2 linked regions of the Homo sapiens genome follow. The protein of the gene in region 1 purifies or fractionates together with the protein of each later gene. This does not show direct contact. Each region holds a gene or a part of one and is shown on either strand. Other genes may lie near its edges.

The links. The genes of interacting proteins can lie anywhere in the genome.
Region 2: the proteins of PTP4A2 (region 1) and CNNM4 purify together in Homo sapiens (affinity purification with mass spectrometry; 7 studies listed by BioGRID and IntAct, with this or other methods). This does not show direct contact.

What each region holds. Positions count from the first base shown.
Region 1 is NC_000001.11:31,907,369-31,914,392, reverse strand, and holds part of PTP4A2 (protein tyrosine phosphatase type IVA 2), read left to right. Parts: intron 1-2,566; coding exon 2,567-2,697; intron 2,698-4,280; coding exon 4,281-4,355; intron 4,356-5,432; coding exon 5,433-5,541; 3' UTR 5,542-7,024.
Region 2 is NC_000002.12:96,756,932-96,763,911, forward strand, and holds the start of CNNM4 (metal transporter CNNM4 precursor), read left to right. Parts: upstream 1-3,970; 5' UTR 3,971-4,068; coding exon 4,069-5,470; intron 5,471-6,980. UniProt on the Homo sapiens protein: Probable metal transporter. The interaction with the metal ion chaperone COX11 suggests that it may play a role in sensory neuron functions. May play a role in biomineralization and retinal function.

The DNA of each region.
Region 1 (7,024 bases):
AAATGTGTTTTAAAAAAATGTGTTTTAGGGCCCTGTGTGGTGGCTCATGCCTGTTCCCACCACTCTGGGAGGCCAAGGTAGGTGGATCACTTGAGTCCAGGAGTTCCAAGACTAGTGGGGCAACATGGTGAAACCCTGTCTCTCCGAAAAATACAAAAATTAGCTGGACGTGATGGCATGCACCTATAGTCCTAGCTACTTGGGAGGTTGAGGTGGGAGGATCACCTGAACCCGAGAGGTCAAGGCTGCAGTGAGCCATGATTGTGCTGCTGTGCTCCAGCTTGGGTGACAGAGACCTTGTCAGTCAATCAGTCAATAATGTGTTTTAATAGTTTGGCATGGTAATAATTTGCTTGCAGTCAAATTTCTAAATGACTTTACTGTCCACTGCTGGAAATCACTGGGAATGAGTGTAAACATGTCAAATGCAGCCCTGTGTTTAAAAAGTAGTAATAAAATTTAAACTTCCGAAAATAAGCTGCATACAAGTTTATTTTGCTGCATTATGAATATGTTCTCTAGTGAGCAAAAATCAACTTGTTTTGACAGATGGCAGAGTGAGAAAATGACTGGATTGACCATAGTCTGTTTGAGTCAGTAATGTTGGTAAACATCTTTGTGAAATAGAAATGAACTAAAGAACTTGAACTAGTTTGAGGAAGATAATGGTAGGCCTAAGATTTATTCCAGGCCTTTAAATTTAGGTTTTTGTTTTGTTTTAAATAGCTGTGATCTGGGAAATGCAAATCAAAAGCACAATATGATACCACCTTACTCCTGTAAGAATGGCCGTAATCAAAAAATTAAAAAAAAAAATAGATGTTGTCAGGGATGTGGTGAAAAGGGAACACTTGTACACTGCTGGTGGGAATGTAAACTAGTACAACCACTATAGAAAACAGCGTGGAGATTCCTTAAAGAACTAAAAGTAGAACTATCATTTGATCCAGCAATCCCATTACTGGGTATCTACCCAGAGGAAAATAAGTCATTAAAAACAAACAAACAAACAAATAAATAAATAGCTATGATCAGATAAAATGAAAGGTTTAACTTACACTTGAAAAAACAAGGGCATTTAGCCTTAAGCTTGGAATTTCCTTTTCCCAGACAGAGATTTTAAGAGTTAATCTAATTTTGCTAGGTGAGGAGGGTTTTGGAACATTTCATGGTAAGAGGATATCCCCAAATAAGGCCTGTCAGTCCTCTGAATGCTCTTGCAAACCAGACACACATTGGAATAGACTAATGGTGGTTTTAGCTGTATCAATTTGAGGTTCAGATGTTTCTAAATGATTAATGATTTTTTTAAAAATAGACACTACTTATATGAGTAAGTGAAGCATGTTTTATATTGTTTCTTAACTAGGTGCATTTTAGGGAGTATTAGAGGAAGTAAGCTCTTGACTAAGGTACTGGTTTTATTGCTATTTACAGTTAAACTCTCTAGTGACATTTATAATAACACAGTCCTTTAATTATGGGGCGTAGTTGTCAACTCAATCATGTACTGTTTTGGCTAATGGGCTACATGAAGTGTTCTAGTGGTGCCAATAATGAATGCAGAATCAATTTAATGCTCTGTCACTTTTCTCTTTTTCCTCCCCTAATATCTTAAAGTGTCCTTATCCAATCTCATTAGAATAGCCTTATGTTTTTAAAAAAATTCCTAACAGTGTTTTTGCATTTCTATCTTTGAAGCTTAGATGGCAGGAGGGAAGGCTTGTAAAATGTCAGCCCCCAGTCCCCCTCCTCCACTCCCCATTTGTGTTGGTTTCTTAGGACCTCTTGCTAAGTAGTGAGGAAGATAAACCCCTGCCTATACTGTGAATGCTCGTGGGATTAGTCTTAATTGAAAGATAGCCCAAATAGGTGAATACAGAAAGAGAAAGGGATACTTGACAAAATGGTCTCCATTTGCCCAGGACCCTGTCATGCAGCCCTGTCCTTGTTAAATGGGGACATATATAATTTAGTAAGCACTTTAAAAATACTCACTGCTTGCCTTTTAATAAGCACAAAGATGGTAGTTTGTTTCTGTTATGATTTACTAACTATTGGAGATTTCTTATCAGATAACCTTTCTCTAAAGATGTCATAACTTAGTTATCTTGAATTATAATCTTCAATTATCTGTAGAGACCAATGAGACACCAGTTGGTATGCTTTGCCAGAGTGGACTTTTAAATCATGTTGACATGTGCTGTGTCCTCTGTTACTTTGTCTTGGCTTTAATTACAGTTTTGTCTATTATGTCTAATTACTACTCTATTCAGATATCATTTTTGGGAGAACACTAGCTCTTATGACTCTGATAGAGATTTCTGTAAGTTTTTGTAAATTCAGATGTGTGCGACACTGCATTGAGAAGGGTAATTTATTTGGCAAACTTTAATTTCAATCCTGGATCATTTTACAGCAATGATCAGAATTGTGTTAACAATAGGTATATATAGTGCAGTTAGTTCAGTTAGGCCTGCCGTGTGTACTGTGTGCAGGTATTCTGTATTAGGATGTTAATCATGGAGAAAATATCAATTTAATGTAAAAGGTCATTTCTTTTCAGGATTGGCCATTTGATGATGGAGCTCCACCCCCTAATCAGATAGTAGATGATTGGTTAAACCTGTTAAAAACCAAATTTCGTGAAGAGCCAGGTTGCTGTGTTGCAGTGCATTGTGTTGCAGGATTGGGAAGGTAAACTCTTACCTTTATTACCCTTTTTGTCTGAATTCATTACCATGCCTAAGTTAGTTGAAAGTTTCACTTTGGTAGACATTTGCATATATTATACTAAATAACATTAAATTACCTGAAAGGAAAGGAAATGAGAGGAAAAACTAGTGTAATGATTTCTCAAAAGAGCCTGTTCATTTCATCTGGTTGTCTGATTCTGATGCCAGCCTGGATTGTGGGTGTTTTATTTTTCTCCCTATTTCAAGTAATCAAAAGTTCAGGTCACTGAAATTGGCAACAAAATTAAAATAATTTTAGAGTTTGATGAATCTATACATGGTTAATTTTGGACTGAGATGAATGGGAAGTTAATAGATAGCAGATATCTGAACTTTAAACTCTTGAAAGAAGATGTATGGACAAGAATTGACTTTGATCTTAAAACCTTTTCCCCTGAGCATTGCTTAGAATGGTGTTGCAACGCTGTCATCAGCAGCAGATTAAATGCCAATTTAGGATGCACACTTTGACTCAAAACATTAGTGTAGGCTGCCATTGCCTCAAGGTGGTGATTACTCAAGCTGTTAGTTCTGCTCTGCCCTTTTGTTTGCTATTTCCTTTTTTGTAGTGTGGTACTGTTTGTTCATAAGGTTAGAAGTTTTAGTCCTTATCCTGAAGGTTGAAGATAATGTTGTAACGTGAGTTGGCAGTTTTATAACTAGTAGCTATCCTAGTTTTAGGTAGCCCAAAATTGGTGCCCTGTAATGGGCTTTATAAAAACATCATTTCCTTTGTTAAATTTTTTTAAAAAGATAGAACTTCTTCTAGTCATCAATTCTTGGGCATTTTCCTAGCTCATCAAAAGGATTTTCTTGAAAACGTCTAGCACCTTTTTAGCATTTGATAAGGAAATATTAAAATCAATTGGTAATGAAAATTCTGACACATTGGAGATAAGTAATATGTTTGGTCATTTATTTTACTGTGATAATGGCTAAAGGCCAATGAAGGATTTTTGATCATATCTAGTGATGAGAGAATTTAATATATAATGTGATGTTTTAAAGAGTAAAGATTTCTTAAGGTTTAGAATTTAGTGCTTTACTAAAAGTAGATAATCAGGCTGGGCGCTATGGTTCACGCCTGTAATCCCAGCACTTTGGGAGGCGGAGGCAGGCAGATTGCTTGAGCCTAGGAGTTCAAGAGCAGACTGGGTAACACGGAGAAACCCCGTCTCTACTAACTATTAAAAATCAAAAATTAGCTGGGCATGGTGGCGGGCACCTATAGTCCGAGCTATTTGAGGAACTGAGGCAGGAGGATCACCTGAGCTTTGGGAGGTTGAGGCTGCGGTGAGCCGTGATTGTGCCACTGCACTCTGGCCTGGGTGATAGAGCGAGACCCTGTCCCCTGCCCCGCCAAAAAAAAAAATCATAGAATTAATGATGATGAGATATATTTACTGTATTAGGCAGATACCAGCTACTTTAGTATACAGGAAAAAGAAAGCTCATGCGTTGCATTGGTAATATGCAGTTACAGGTTTTTAAAAATCCTTTCACTCCAAGACTTATGGATACTTACATACAGGTTTCTTTCTGCAGGGCACCTGTGCTGGTTGCACTTGCTTTGATTGAATGTGGAATGAAGTACGAAGATGCAGTTCAGTTTATAAGACAGTGAGTATGAAGTTTTTGTGTTCAGAAACACAGAAAGCAAGATCATGCATGAGGAAGGAATTATGGAAGGGATATTCATTTATAGTATGGGATAATTTGCTTTTTTTGGCTTGAAGTATTATTTGAAGATGTAAAAAATTTAGAGCAAGTGATAGAGACTCAGTACAGCTGGTTTCCAGATTCAAAAGTTTTCTAATTTGGACATTATAGACTGTGTCCAGTATATTGTTTTGAGTATCTAGGAATCTCAAAAATGCCCCTTTTAATAGATTCCAAATACCTTCCAAATATAATTCTCTGTTAGGAGGAGGCAAGAAGAATGTGTAGAGGAGCAGTTAATCACCTGAGACTCTTTTTTTTTTTTTTGAGATGGAGTCTCGCTCTGTTGCTCAAGCTGGAGTGCAGTGGCTCAATCTCGGCTCACTGCAACCTCTGCCTCCTGGGTTCAAGCGATTCTACTGCCTCAGCCTCTCAAGTAGCTGGGACTACAGGCACGCACCACCACGCCCAGCTAATTTTTGTATTTTTAGTAGACGGGGTTTCACCATGTTGGCCAGGATGATCTCAATCTCCTGATCTCGTGATCCGCCCACCTCGGCCTCCCAAAGTGCTGGGATTACAGGCGTGAGCCACCACGCCTGGCCTCACCTGGGACTCTTAAGTGATCTATTCAGGGACAAAATCAGGATGGTAGTGCACAGACAGGATCTTGACATTGATCTGGAATAACGAATCATGCTATTTTGTTATCCAGAATTCTTTGACAATTTTTGTCTTGCCCTTTCCCTTTCAACCCTTCCTTTAAAAAAAGAAAACGAAAGTAGAAACTATTCTGATCTTTATTAAATGGTTAATAGACTATAATGACAGTCAGCAAGAAAAATTTTTCTATTCCTTCTAGGAGGGCTTAGAAAGTTCATGTTGCAACTTAGCTCTTTAAGAATTGTTGTAGTATGGGAAATATGCTGGTTTTCAGCTGTGTGGAATTAGAAAGGCTTTAGGATGTAAATAATGCATTTCAGTGAATCAGACAGCTCTTTTTTTACATGATAAAGTTTGCCATTCTTGTATTTTCAGAAAAAGAAGGGGAGCGTTCAATTCCAAACAGCTGCTTTATTTGGAGAAATACCGACCTAAGATGCGATTACGCTTCAGAGATACCAATGGGCATTGCTGTGTTCAGTAGAAGGAAATGTAAACGAAGGCTGACTTGATTGTGCCATTTAGAGGGAACTCTTGGTACCTGGAAATGTGAATCTGGAATATTACCTGTGTCATCAAAGTAGTGATGGATTCAGTACTCCTCAACCACTCTCCTAATGATTGGAACAAAAGCAAACAAAAAAGAAATCTCTCTATAAAATGAATAAAATGTTTAAGAAAAGAGAAAGAGAAAAGGAATTAATTCAGTGAAGGATGATTTTGCTCCTAGTTTTGGAGTTTGAATTTCTGCCAGGATTGAATTATTTTGAAATCTCCTGTCTTTTTAAACTTTTTCAAAATAGGTCTCTAAGGAAAACCAGCAGAACATTAGCCTGTGCAAAACCATCTGTTTGGGGAGCACACTCTTCCATTATGCTTGGCACATAGATCTCCCTGTGGTGGGATTTTTTTTTTCCCTTTTTTTGTGGGGGAGGGTTGGTGGTATATTTTTCCCCTCTTTTTTCCTTCCTCTCCTACATCTCCCTTTTCCCCCGATCCAAGTTGTAGATGGAATAGAAGCCCTTGTTGCTGTAGATGTGCGTGCAGTCTGGCAGCCTTAAGCCCACCTGGGCACTTTTAGATAAAAAAAAAAAAAAAACAAAAAACAACACCAAAAAAACAGCAGTGATATATATATATATATATATATATATATATATATATATATATATATATATATATATATATATATATAATATAATATATATATATATATATATATTTTCCAGGTGGTTTTTAGTCTTTACTGATGAAAGGGTGTTCATGTTAGTTTCTTCAAAACCCTATCTAATACTAGGCAAAGTAGCCAAGAGCCTTTTGTTTTGTTTTTATTTTGATAAATTAGTGGAGAAATGGCATTTTAAGAGGAGTCTCTTCTCAACTTACCTGAGAGTCGAATTCTTCTCTTCCCTAACCAATGAAGCTAAGTGGTTATCCCAGAAACTTGTCTTCTAAAAGGGAGGACTCCAGGCCATCAATAAAGATGTCCAGGCAGTGAGCGTACTTTTTACACCCTGTAGAATTGTGGGCTGTAGCGTTACTCTGATTTTCTGTCTAGTATCAGAGAATGCTGGTAGCTTAAAATTTTTATTTTAGGACTTGTACTCTGAATTTTCAGGAACCGTCAAAGGAGCAGCAGCAAATTCACATATTTTCGACTTGAGAAATGCTTGTGGTATGTGTTTTCCAAACTGCCCCCTATATGTAAAGTTCAGTTTAACCACTGATTGCCTTGTTATTACTAGGTTTTTTGAGATTAAAAAAAAAAAATCCCTGGTTTAAAACCAACAATGATGCCTAGTGAGTATGTGTCCACAGGCCATAACAGGGTAGAAGAGAGACATCGTGCAACCCAATGAGTAGTGAAGGGACTGTGTTGCTTGTGAAGCGGTGTAGTAGCATTTTTGCAGATTCTTGGCTGGGTTTAGTGTACTGATCTAGAAAAGCTGTTTTTCTGCTCCTTTGTG
Region 2 (6,980 bases), on another chromosome or scaffold:
AAAAGAAAAAAAATGATCCTGGCCACATCATTTTCATCATTATCATGGTGACTGGGCATGTTTATTGAGCTCTTACTATGGGCCAGGCACTTGTGAAGTACTTATGGCTCATCATTTCACTCAACACTCGAGAATGTCCCAGAGTCCCAGGTCACACAGGCAATCAGCAGCCAAGCCAGCCCCCAGGGTCCTTCAAAGCTGTGCTCTGAACCTCCATGGTGGGGTATCCTGCCTTCCATGGTCCTGCTCCCAAGAAAAACAATTTGTCCTATGGCCAGAGGAAGCTTGAAGCCCACTTACATAGTTAATACAAACCCCTTCACCTTTGCTGCTCTGGCATTCGACTTCCTTGGCCTGGACCCACTGATGTGATGCTCTCACTCCCTCCTCTGGCTCAATTAAACATTTGTCTCAGGCAGAAATCATGACATCCTCCTATCCAAGTCCTCATGCCCCCACTTGCTGGGATGACCTGAGTTGGGATTTGAGCACCACCCTAGCTAACTCCACGCTAACTCTGTCCTTCTGTAGAGGGTTGACTGCTCCTTCCTTCCTGAGACAATTTAACTGCATGGATGAGTCCTGCAGATGTTCAGGGCTATCATAGTAGACTCATGGGCAGCCGGTGAACAGGCCACTGCATGTACTGACGACGGGCATAGCTCACCCTGAAAAGATGTCTCATGGTCCCCAACCAGGTTCTCCAACCCCGGGGCCCACGGTGCACCCAGAGGGATTCTACCCATTGTGGGGCCAGGGCAGGCCTCAGGCTCTGAGCCCCACTAGCGGAAGGGCAGCTTCTCTGCCAGCAGCTTCTCTGCCAGCAGCTCCTCTGCCAGCAGCACCCCATCTTGGAGACCCAGAGGGTGAAGAGGGCTAAGAAGCTAGCCTGGGAGGATTAGATCCCAGGTTACTAATTCAGGATCCTTGTTCATCATCGGATCTCCAGCATCAGCATGATGCCAGGTACAAGTGAAGGGGCACTAAGCCTTTAAGACTGTTTCCCTGCACAGAACCAGAAGGGAGTGGGCTCAATTATGGGAGGTGTAGCCATGTTGCCATAGGGCTTACACCTGGAAAGAAGCAGTGAGCTCCAAGGATCTCATGACTAGGGTGCTGTTACATGCTCAGGGGTCCAGGATCAGGACTCCTCTGGGCAATTTCTACTTGCAAATAGAAGCAACTAGGTAAGTAAGGACTTGCCACCTTGAGGCAGAGAAAACAGGTTTGATCATGCCTTTATCTGCCCCCAAAGGAGAGAGGCTCCTCGCTTGCACGTTTGCTTTCTGCCATTCTCACCGCCTGGCTAACAGAGAGCCACACATGCATCCAAGCTTCCTGACTCAGCATGTTAATAGACTGCTATCTCCATGCTGTCCCTACGGTGGGAGAGGTATTTCGACATGGCAGATGCAGAAAAGGCAGACTCCCTAACCAGGGTTGCAAGCTGGCAGCAAATGAACCTGGACTTCGGCCTGGGCCCCGTGTGCCTTCTCCAACAAGTGATACTGTGTTTATCTTTTTATTTTTATTTATTTATTTATTTATTTATTTATTTATTTATTTATTTTTTGAGATGGAGTCTCGCTCTGTCACCCAGGCTGGAGTGAGTGGCGTGATCTCGGCTCACTGCAACCTCCGCCTCCCGGGTTCAAGTGATTCTCCTGCCTCAGCCTCCCGGGTAGCTGGGACTACAGGCGTGCATCACCTCACCTGGCTAACTGTGTATTTTTAGTAGAGACGGGGTTTCATCATCTTGGCCAGGCTGGTCTTGAACTCCTGACCTCAGGTGATCTGCCCGCCTTGGCCTCCCAAGGTCCTGGGACTACAGGTGTGCACCATCATGCCAAGCTAACTTTTTATTTTTTAAATTTTTAGTGGAAATGAGTTTTTGCTATGTTGCCCAAGCTGGTAATCCCACATTTAACCTAAATATCTAAAAAACTTATTTTTCCTTTTCTTTATTGGCTTCTGTCATTAGACTCAGTGCATATGAACAGAGCTTCTGAGTGTAGACAGCCTGAAAAGGGTAAAATAAAAGGAGCCAATTCGTACTTAAGCAGAAAAAAGACATAATAGAGAAAAAAATAAAATCATAAGAAAAAGGGAAAAAATAGCCAATTGATTGATAATAGAATGGGAAAGTTTCTAAGTATGGGAGGTGGGGGTAGGGGTGGAGCAGGGCGCTGGTGTTACAGCTCACTAGGAGATGAGGAGAGCTGGGTTTGCTTTGAGGCAATTCAGGTAGCTCTTCCTGGTTGGTGGAGACAGGGAAGGAACAGGCAGTCAAGGTTCTGCTTTTGTTCTGTCTCAGCCAGTGCCCATTCCAAGGCTCCTATTCCTCGAAAAAACTGACCTGCTGGGCACTCACTGCAAAGTATCCGCTATGAGTGGGGCCCCTACTAGCAACATACTTCTCCAGGCTGGCCTAGTTTACAGAACCCTCAATCCCAGCTAACAGGGCTTTCTTGAGTCAGGGCCTCTCTGCTACCACACCTCCTCCCACAACATTGTGTGATCCTTTCTGTTTAGGCTCCTTCCGTTTGGTACTGATTGCTGCTTTTATTAGCAAACATTACACCAAAATGAAAATAAATACAAGTGTCAGTGCGGGAAGGGAGTAAAGTGGGTTCTGTGTCTTCAGTACTGGCAAAAGATTTGCTGTGAGACCTGGTGGTCAACCCAGTACCTGATCTTCTCTGTGCACCTGTGCAATTATTGTAAGGATGTTTATCTGTCTGTCTTCTTCCCCCTCACAGGGCGGGCAGCTGTGGTCTTCCTTATACACCCTACTGACACAGGGCTAGGGCCATTCAGGAAGCAGTCATTTCAGGGATAGGCCCACTGCCGCGCCTGCCTGCTCATGTCCACAAGCAGCTGCCCAGCTGATCAATCACCACAATTTGGGGTTAGGAGTTTGGTCCTGGAAGGCAGGTAGCAACAACTACTACCTAGCCAAAGAATATTCTAAAGAGCTGTCCTGTCATGTTCAATGTCTAGGTCCACAATCCCGCAAGCTTAGCGAAGTAATGCTCTGTCATTCTTACCCCCATTTACAGATGGAGAAATGGGCTGGGAGATGACAGTATGGAGGCACCAGGATTTTTGTCTCGGCTCAATTTCTGCATCTCTAAATGGAAATAATTCTACTAACTCTGAGGGTTGTTGGGGGGATTTAATGAATATATGTGTTTACTTGTTTATCTCCTGTTTTCTGTTCTAGACTGTAAACCCCAATGGGCAGCGACTTTGGCTTGTTCACTGCTCTATTGTCAGAGCCTAGAACAAGTGCCTGGTACAAAGTAGGTGTTCAATAAATATCTATGCCTAAATGGAAGAGACAGGAGAGAAGTCTAGGCCAGAGCCTGCCCCTTCTATAACCTTAGTTCCCCAGATTTGCCTTCCACATCAGGCAGCCACTGGTTGATGGAAGCATCGTCGGGCTGGGGCTGGGGCTGGGGTAACCTACTTCTGGCCTTAGGACAAGGTCGGCAAAAATCTCAGCAGTGAGGAGGCCAGAAAAGTCTCCAAGGGGCAGGCTGCAATGCCAGCCTAAGCCCTCAGGTTTCCTTTTTCTTTTTCTACATCAGGAAAAGCACTTTTCTCGCCCTGCCTGCAGAGCGGGCCACCCCTAGCTGCAGGTGAGGGACGGGAGAGGAGCCTCCCACGTGCGGCCGTGCGAGGCCGAGGAACAGGAACGGCGTAGCTAGGAGACCAGGTCCCGGAGAAGGAGAGCTGGCCCCACTGGCAGAGAAAGGCGGGGAAGGGCGCGGAGGCGGAGCACTGGGCGGGTACCCGCTGGCGGCTCTCGCGCGGCGGCGCTGCTCCACCTTAAGCGACTGTACCCCCTTAAGGGCGGGCGCTCAAGCAGCGAGCCCCGGGGGCGGGGCCTCCAATGCAAATGAGGGGCGTGGGCAGGCGGGGCGGGGCGGGCGGGGCGCTGACCTGACGTCAGGCTCGCGGCCCGGGCAGTTGGCTCGGCGGCAGCGGAGCGGCCGGAGCTGCGGTGCGGACCGGGGCCGCGCGGCGTGGCGCGGGGAGCGGCGGCGGCGGCAGAGCCAGAGCAACATGGCGCCGGTGGGCGGGGGCGGGCGCCCGGTCGGCGGACCGGCCCGCGGGCGCCTCCTCCTGGCGGCGCCGGTGCTGCTGGTGCTGCTGTGGGCGCTGGGGGCCCGGGGCCAGGGCAGCCCCCAGCAGGGCACGATCGTGGGCATGAGGCTGGCGAGCTGCAACAAGTCGTGTGGGACGAACCCGGATGGCATCATCTTCGTGTCCGAGGGCAGCACCGTGAACCTGAGGCTGTACGGCTACAGCCTGGGCAACATCTCCAGCAACCTGATCTCCTTCACCGAGGTGGACGATGCCGAGACCCTCCACAAGTCCACCAGCTGCCTCGAGCTCACCAAGGACCTGGTCGTCCAGCAGCTGGTCAACGTGAGCCGCGGGAACACGTCCGGCGTGCTGGTGGTGCTCACCAAGTTCCTCCGGAGGAGCGAGAGCATGAAGCTGTATGCACTGTGCACCCGGGCCCAGCCCGACGGGCCCTGGCTGAAGTGGACGGACAAGGACTCACTGCTCTTCATGGTGGAGGAGCCTGGGAGGTTCCTGCCTCTCTGGCTGCACATTCTCCTAATTACGGTGCTGCTGGTGCTGTCGGGCATATTTTCTGGCCTCAACCTCGGGCTTATGGCCCTGGACCCCATGGAGCTGCGCATCGTGCAGAACTGTGGCACCGAGAAGGAGAGGCGCTATGCCCGCAAGATTGAGCCCATCCGGCGCAAGGGCAACTACCTTCTCTGCTCGTTGCTCCTAGGGAACGTGCTGGTCAACACCTCCCTCACAATCCTTCTAGACAACCTCATCGGGTCCGGCCTCATGGCGGTGGCCTCCTCCACCATTGGCATTGTCATCTTTGGGGAGATCCTACCTCAGGCCCTGTGCTCCCGACATGGGCTGGCTGTGGGTGCCAACACCATCCTTCTCACCAAATTCTTTATGCTACTCACCTTCCCCCTCAGTTTTCCCATTAGCAAGCTCCTGGACTTTTTTCTGGGCCAGGAGATTCGCACTGTTTACAACCGGGAGAAGCTGATGGAGATGTTGAAGGTGACGGAGCCCTATAATGACCTCGTGAAAGAGGAGCTCAATATGATCCAGGGTGCCCTGGAACTACGGACCAAAACTGTAGAGGATATCATGACCCAGCTCCAGGACTGCTTCATGATCCGCAGCGATGCCATCCTGGACTTCAACACCATGTCGGAGATAATGGAAAGCGGCTATACTCGCATCCCGGTGTTCGAAGACGAGCAGTCCAATATTGTAGATATTCTCTACGTCAAAGACTTGGCCTTTGTGGACCCCGATGACTGCACCCCCCTCAAGACTATCACTCGCTTCTATAACCACCCGGTGCACTTTGTCTTCCATGACACCAAGTTGGATGCCATGCTGGAGGAGTTCAAGAAGGGTAAGGCCAGATGTAGTTCCCCTGGTTCAATTTCCTCTTGACGCCTCTTTTCCCCTGGCGTGTTTTGTGTCTGCTGGCTTTAGTGTTCTGTTTGTGTGACTCTGTGTCCCTTTGCCTATCGCTTCCTATGCTTCTGAGGTGAACGATTTTGGAGCGGTAGACCCATTCTCAAGTGTCTGCCGTCTGCCAGGTAGTGTGCTGTGTGCTCCTGATGAATCAAAGCTGAATAAGACATACTCGCTCCCTTGGAGGGCTGGAGCAAGACCTCAGGGAGCTATTGAAGCAAGACAGAGTAAGACAGATGCCTGAAAAGAGGCCAGGGCGATGGAGATTTAGAGTATGGGGTGGAGTCAGGAAGGGGCTGGGAAATTGGGGAATCCACAGGGGAAGGAGCATTTGAGGAGAATCTTAAAAGGTAGAGAGGCTTGCTGCTTGAGGCAGAGGGAACCCCGCAAGCAGAGAACCGGAGTGGAGAAGCAAAAGTGTGCTTGTGGCCCAGCAGGTGGTCCTGTTTGGTGGGTATAGTGGCTCTGATGCTTAGTGGTCAATGGCTGGAGTAGTTTGGGGCCCGGTGGTGGACGCTAAGTTTGCTCCCAGCTTGGGAGCTACAGGTTTTTGAGCAGGGGAGTCATGTTACTGGAGGTGCTAGCCCACAGAAGCAGAATTGGGAGGTCTCTAATTGGCTCGCTTCTCAGAACAATGCCAAGTAGCGCTTTCGACTATTCAGCAGAAGCAAGCAGATTAAGTTTTGGTAATTGTGGCGCCAGCGTAAGCTTCCCTCCAGTGGTCTGCTGGAAATCTTCAGCTGCCTTGCACTGCCTTGTGTTTTTTTCTCACCTGGGTTCTTGGCCATTTCGCAGGTAGTTAGAGAGGCATTTGGAGGGTTTACTCATCAGCCTCAAAGCTCAAGGCACACACTCCTTTTCTTCCAGCAAAATTTTCCTCCCATCTCTGCCATTCAGAAACCCTCAAAGTGGCAGTAAACAAGCCAATTATGGAGTGGAACCCTCCCAGGCTGAAGGAAGTGAGGAGGCAGAAAGGGAAGCTCTTTTTTAAAGGAATGGGGGTGAGGGGCTCATCCTAAACTTGGGGACTTTGCTTTCTAAACATGCTCCCAGCCTTCATTCCCATAGGAGAGCTCCTACTGGCTGAGGCTGCTCAGGCCGACCTAGGGCTTGGAGGGACTTCGGAATCCTAGCAGGGAGTGAGCTGGCAGGTGTTTCTGTAACGGAGAGTGGAGGACAGCTTTGGAGTGGGATAGGGAGGAGCTGGCTTTGCCAGGTTTGGTCTGAAAAGATGCTGGGGTCAGGGCCAGGGTGGTGGGTTGGTACCCTCCTAAGTTCAACAGACTGAATCTTAGTATCGGAGCTGAGGACCACTTGAGTAAAGTAAGCCAGAGTCTGGGAGAGCCCCAGGGAAGGTGGCCTCCCTGCAGAGACTGGAGAGACAGACCCCTAGTGGTGAAGGCAGAGGCTGCGGTGGGGTGGGGGTGGGGGCGGCTTTGGGAGTG